2 separate regions of the Homo sapiens genome follow, and region 2 is reported to be linked to region 1. The links are microRNA targets in miRTarBase. Many come from high-throughput screens and were not tested one by one. Region 1 holds a microRNA gene; the other region holds the end of a gene's coding sequence.

The links. The annotated mature microRNA hsa-miR-6840-3p reads GCCCAGGACUUUGUGCGGGGUG and lies in region 1 at 1,288-1,309, opposite strand. An mRNA with a match to its seed (bases 2 to 7 or 8) in the 3' UTR can be bound and repressed. Matches are read on the target gene's strand: a 7mer-m8 pairs with bases 2 to 8, a 7mer-A1 pairs with bases 2 to 7 and ends in A, and an 8mer does both.
Region 2: miRTarBase lists RABL3 as a target of hsa-miR-6840-3p. Seed matches in the 3' UTR shown: 7mer-A1 at 807-813.

Annotation. Positions count from the first base shown.
Region 1 is chr7:100,354,831-100,358,004 of GRCh38, reverse strand. It overlaps MIR6840 (microRNA 6840), which reads right to left and starts at 1,354; the gene lies at 1,284-1,354. STAG3L5P-PVRIG2P-PILRB (STAG3L5P-PVRIG2P-PILRB readthrough) reads right to left here. Exons shown (of 17, transcript NR_036570.1): 12 at 2,765-2,862; 13 at 1,122-1,255.
Region 2 is chr3:120,687,080-120,690,079 of GRCh38, forward strand. It overlaps RABL3 (RAB, member of RAS oncogene family like 3), which reads right to left. Exons shown (of 8, transcript NM_173825.5): 8 at 1-2,809. The coding sequence ends at 2,744. Among named protein-coding and RNA genes, the nearest start is that of HGD, 6.3 kb to the left of the region's middle.

The DNA of each region.
Region 1 (3,174 bases):
GGTTTTGCCATGTTGGCCAGGGTGGTCTCACACTCATAGGCTCAAGTAATCTGCCCGCCTCAGCCTCCAAAAGTGCTGGGATTACAGGCGTGAGCCACTGTGCCCGGCCTGACTTCAAATCCTGTGTTGAATAGAAGTAGTGAGAGCGGGCATCCTTCTCTTGTTCCTGATCTTGGAGGCAAAGATTTCAGTCTTTCATCTAAAATGACTGAAAGACTTTCAGCCATGGGCCTTGCATGACTGGCCTTTATTTTGTTGCAGTACATTCCTTCTCTTCCTGGTTTGTGGAGTGTTTTACCAGGAAAGGGTGTTCAGGCTGGGCACAGTGGCTCAAGTCACACAAAAGTGTCAAGTCAGCCCTGCCCAAGGGCCCCAGTGCCCATCTTCCTGCTGAGGGGCTGGGCCTCACCTTGGCTGGCTGGGCCCCTCCCACCTGGATCCCTGCAGACCCCACCGCACTCAGCCTCACTTCTCATCCCTTTCTCTGTCCAAGGCCAGCGCAGGCTCTTTCAGGGAGAGGAAAGGCGGGCCTGAGTCTGTGCTCTGCTGCACCCCAGATTCAGTCCTCAGAGAGGAGAAGGAGGAAGCCAGTGGAGGTCACAGGCGCTCAGCCCCCAGCCCAAGCACCAGAGCCCCCAGCTTGTCCTCTGTCCCTCTCCCTCCCTGGCAGGGGCTCCCATGCAGTCCCCAGGCACCACCACAGCCCAGCTGGCCTCTTCCCACCCCAGGCCTGCTCCCTTGGTGCAGGGACCACAGTCTTGCTCAAGGGGTGAGGGGGCTGACGGTCCCCTACACAGAGACTGGTCCCTCTCGAGGCCACCCCTTGACCCCCAGACATGAGACTGGATCTGCAGGGTCCCCTCTGACCTCCCTGCCCTACACAGGAGGGGACAGAGCTTGGAGAAGCCCTGTCCCAGGCCACATGACTTGCAGGGCAGTCCCAGGACTGGAGCCCCCTCTACCTGGATCTCTGGGCCTCAACTTCTGAGTTGCAGGAACTCAGGCATAGGGGAGCCCCAGGAGGTTGTTCCCTCATACAGCCCCTCAGGTCATTCCCTCCACACACCTGAGCCTATGGCTGAACCAGGAAGGTTCCTTGGTGCCAGGGCAGCTGGACTCACCCTGGGTGATGGTGAGGTGGGTCCCCTTGATGGACTGCCACGACAGCCTCCCTGATCTGTATGTCCAGCTGGACTTGGCAGAAGTACACAGACTGGTCCTCCTTCCGCAGGTTCGAGATCCTGAGGAAGCCTCCCTGAGGAAGTGAAGGCTCAGAGCAACAGTGGGCACCCCGCACAAAGTCCTGGGCCCGTCTCTAACAGGGGATCTGCAGGTCTTTGCCCGGGGGTGGTCACTGGAGCTTTGGTGACCCACAGGGCTCCCTCCATAGGAGGCTCTGCCCATCCTCTCCAGAGTAAGGTGGCATCAGCTGAGGGGCCGTGGGGACAGGAAGGCAGGATTTCACCAGAGGAAGTGATAACAATCTTCTTGAGACAGAAGCAGGCAGGGACAGGCCTCCCTTCTCTTGTCAGTCTCTTCCCTGGTCCCAGTAGGCTCCTCTGTGCTTCCCAGGGCCAGTCAGGCCGATCCACCCTCCTTCCCTTCACAGGTCTGAGGAAACAGGCTCCCCATGCTCAGGAAACCCCTCCGTCTGAGCCAGGCCCTATACACCTCATTCTCCTTGTTCAACCCACAGGGAAACTGAGGCACCGGGGCTTTGGACTGAACTGGTCCCACCTGCAAAGGTGGGCCGAAAAGAGGACAAGGGACCCCCTGGCTGTTTGGGCAAGGCCTCAAGAGGGTGGCCCACCCTGCCTGAGGACTTTTTGTTTTTTTTTTTTGAGATGGATTCTCGCTGTGTTGCCCAGGCTGGAGTGCAATGGTGTGATCTTGGCTCACGGTAACCTCTGCTTCCTGGGTTCAAGTAATTCTCCTGCCTCAGCCTTCCAAGTAGCTGGGAATTACAGGTGTGTGCCACCACACCCAGCTAATTTTTATATTTTTAGTAGAGACAGGGTTTCACCATGTTGGCCAGGCTGGTCTCAAACTCCTGGCCTCAAGTGATCTGCCCACCTCAGCCTCCCAAAGTGCTGGGATTATAGGCATGGGATACAACACCCAGCCACTGAGGACTGACTCTTCGTTCCATTCCTGCCTTGCCCGTGGCCCATGGGACCCAGCTAGAAGGTCACCTGCTTACCAGGCTGCCCAAGGAGGGGGCCACATAGAACTTTTAGCCAACAGCCTCTGGGTAGCTCTGGAGGGTACATACTCCCCAGGGGCCTCAGGCCCGGTACCGCCACGTGCATTCTCCTTAGATGCAAGGTGCGTGTTTATGTCACTTTCCGGGCTCTGGACCCAGCTGAACCCCCATGGGAGATTCCTTTTGTGTCAGGATTTCTGCTCTGGAATGGTGTGAGGCCTCCCGGATGGTTCATCCTCCCTCCCCCAACAGCAGTGACAGGGCCTGGGGCTAAGCCTGGGGCTGTGGCTCTCTCTCAGAGGGGGGTTTTGGGAGGCACCGGCCCTGGAGGAGGGCATGATTCCAACATGGGCAGAGTCTAAATCCAGCCCGTTAGCCCAGCAGGTGGCCATGGGAGAGGCATGGGATGCAGTGTTCAGCAGAGGCAGGGAGGGGGCCAGGACCCTGCCCATTTTGAGAACTGCTGCTTGTATGTCCCCACCTTCCCCCAACAACTATCCTCCTTTCCTCACCAGCCACGTCTATGCCTGCCCCAGCCCCTTGCCCCTCCTTGGCACCCACCTTGTTCTTGCTTTCCCCTTGAGATCAGGAATGAGGCACAGATGTCTGCTCTCACTGCCTCCCTTCACGGTACTGGAGTCCTAGCCAGCGCGCTATGCCTGAAGGGAAATACAAGTGCTCTGTGTCTTCTTCAATTCTGTATTGATCTATTTGGCCTCCACCCATCACAGGGCCCATATTATCTATATTTCCTGCATTCTTGGCCTCTTTTTAGTGGGGGACATGGTCTCGCTCTGCCTGTAGGTGGGACTATAGGCACGCACCACAGTTCTCCCCTAATTTTCTTTTTTGCAGAGACGTGGTGTCACTGTTACCCAGGCTGGCCTCAATCTCCCAGGCTCAAGGCATCCTCTCAGTGTGCTGGGATTACACATATGAGCCACAGGGCTGAGCCCCTTGTACATTGCCAA
Region 2 (3,000 bases), not on the chromosome of region 1:
TCAACGTTAAGATGGAGAGACCAGCCCAAATCTTTAGTTGGATTCCAGCTAAGTCTTATACACCTAAGGGACAGAGGAGTAGTCATATATATGCCTTCATATCTGGTCACCTTCACAATGAGTCAGAAAATTGGTCAGACACCGAAATCACAACAGAAAAAAAAAATCTTTATTTCTACCAACTTGTCCCATCAAGAGAGTAAGATATACATATGTAAAGAGATGGAGTCCCACTCTGTCATCAGGCTGCTGGAAGGCAGTGGTGCAATCATGAATCACTGCAGCCTCAAACTCCCGAGCTCAAGTGATCCTCCTGCCTCAGTCTCCTAGAGTGCTGGGATTATAGGCGTGAGCCAGCACCTGGCCAATTATACTTTTAAAAAAATATTTTGACATTTATACTTGTTTATTATCTAAAAGCATTTTTATGAATAGTTCTCAAGAAGTCCTAGCAAAAATTGTGCTTCATTCTTTTTTGAATAACTCTAGCTAATAACATTCATTTGCGCAAAAAGCCTTATTATGCTGCTGCTAATAATTGCAACAAATTTACCTTAGATTATTAAAAACTATTTTTTCTTAGAAAACTATAATTCAAGGAATCAAGCTTGGCTGCAGAAAGTAATGGAGTTGAGGAATACTGTTAATTTTTCCAGATTGACCCTGGAGTCATCAGCAATAGTTTACTTTTATTATTTATTTATATATTTATATATTTATTTATTTATTTTCTTTTAGTTGGAGTCTCACTCTGTCACCTAGGCTGGAGTGCAGTGACACGATCTTGACTCACTGCAACCTCCACCTCCCAGGTTCAAGTGATTCTCCTGCCTCAGCCTCCCAAGTAGCTGGGATTACAGGCGCGTGCCACCAGGCCTGGCTAATTTTTGTATTTTTAGTAGAGACAGGGTTTCCCTATGTTGGCCAGGCTGGTCTCAAACTCCTGATATCAAGTGATCGACCCGCCTCCCAAAGTGTTGGGATTAAAGGTGTGAGCCACCGCGCCTGGCCTATTTTTATTTTTTAAATAAGATAGAAAATAAAAAAATCAGGATGAATTTTTTTAAAATTAAAAGAAAGAGGAAGAAAGAAGGAAGGAAGATTTATTTCTTGAAGGAGAAATACAAAGAGCTTAATTGGGTTAGGTCTCTGGGTAGCATTTGGTTTCTACTTCCCAACTGTACAGCCTATGCAACAACATACTTGTGACCAATTCTACATACAGATCATGATTTGCATAGCTTTCCTTTGTGTCAAAAAGAAACCAGGGCTATGTCCTTTCAAAGAGGAAGTAAAGAAAGGCTGGAGAACAGTCTAGCTGATGAAAGCTGCTTTAAAAATCCTTTTCCAAATTCCCAAGACTGCCTTTCTAAAAGGACTCTCTAACATTCTTATTTTAATATCCTCTTGCAGCATACCTTGATTTCCAAGATACTTCTGAAACCTAATTAAAATGGAACAGAAAGTGAATTTGGTGTTTTCCACCTATTTTTTAAATGAGAAATGAAAACTGTATATTTATTATTGTTATTTAAAAGTATGGAGCAAAATCAGGAGTGCAGAGACCTGCAGCAGAGCCAGAGAGAGAATACGGGTGATAGAGTGTTGAATAAATTGTTTTTAGAAATCAAATTCATATACTCAGGAAGAACTGGGGCAGAGAAGATTAAGCAAGCAAAAAGATAGGTTAAAAAAAGTAATGATGAACAATTACGGACACACACACACACACACACCATCCCCAAAAAGCTTTGGAGTGATTATGAAATCCAAGAATCCTAGTTCATAATTCATGTAAATGTGTTGCTGTGGAACTTATTTTTACTTCTCTCCATAAATACATTGTTGACACAGAATAATATTCTTAGTTTTCTGATTATAGCTAAGGGACATTTCAGGAGTTGACTTTTCCTTAAAAAAACAAATAGAGAGGAGGCTGTAAATGTCTCTCACTGCCCTTGTGCAGGTCTTAGATTTTACCCTACCTATTTCCAAACAGAAAACCTAGACTGTATATAGCAGCAACCTTAAGAGTGAGGGAGCTGTCAATTTTTCACATCATTTTACCAGAATTCTTTTTTTCTGGTATTGCTGTTCTCTATGTATTATTAATTTGTATTTATATTTAACTCTGGCTATTAGTCCGCCTCTTCCAGTCACTGAGCCATTTGCAAAGGAGAGAAGAGGGAGACAAGGGTTGCTATTATTAGGCATTCCTGTGTGTGACAATGGTGGAGACAATTAAATAACACCATTTTGCATCTTTGAAAATGACAGAGATTGTTTGGGGTAGACAACTCAGGGCTGGTTAACAAGACCGTTCCCCTCAAGAAGGTAAAACAATGGAGATACGTTTTTGAAGTACTTAATTAAGCTTTCAGCAATGAGTGTGGGAAAATTACAGACCCATAAAAACCCTCCAGTTCTAGGCAAGAGTAAATTTTCTCTGCAGTACACTGTCATTGCTCATTTACTGCATCATTTTGACAACATCTCATATTTACACAAGGCTTTTACATAATCTATACACAGGGACAGAAAGGTAAGGAACACAGAGAACAGGGACAAAGTTTGGACCTCCCGTATTGTCACTTCCTTTCATTTTTCCATTAAAGGGTAAGGCTGAAGGGTAGCATTTTAAGATGATTTTGTTAAAAGGCTGTGATGGTAATAATTGAACACAGCAAGATGAGCTGTGAAAAACTGCCACTGCTTGCTCACTCTTCCAAAGGATGAGTGTAATTCAGTCATAATGAAGGCTCTTTAATGTTCCTGCCCCAAATCTTTTCCGATCAGGAAAGCCTGGAATCTGTAGGCAAGAAAGATAATTGCATTAAGTCTCAAGCAATAAAAGTTCAAATACTAATAGTAATTTTTCCCTTCTTTTCCATTTCTGTATGTCAGCCTGCTGTTTCTTAAAAAAACAACTTTCTGAGGTTTTACTCAGAAAACCACAGATTAAATAATAAAAATAAATCTTACCCAAATGGAAAACATTTC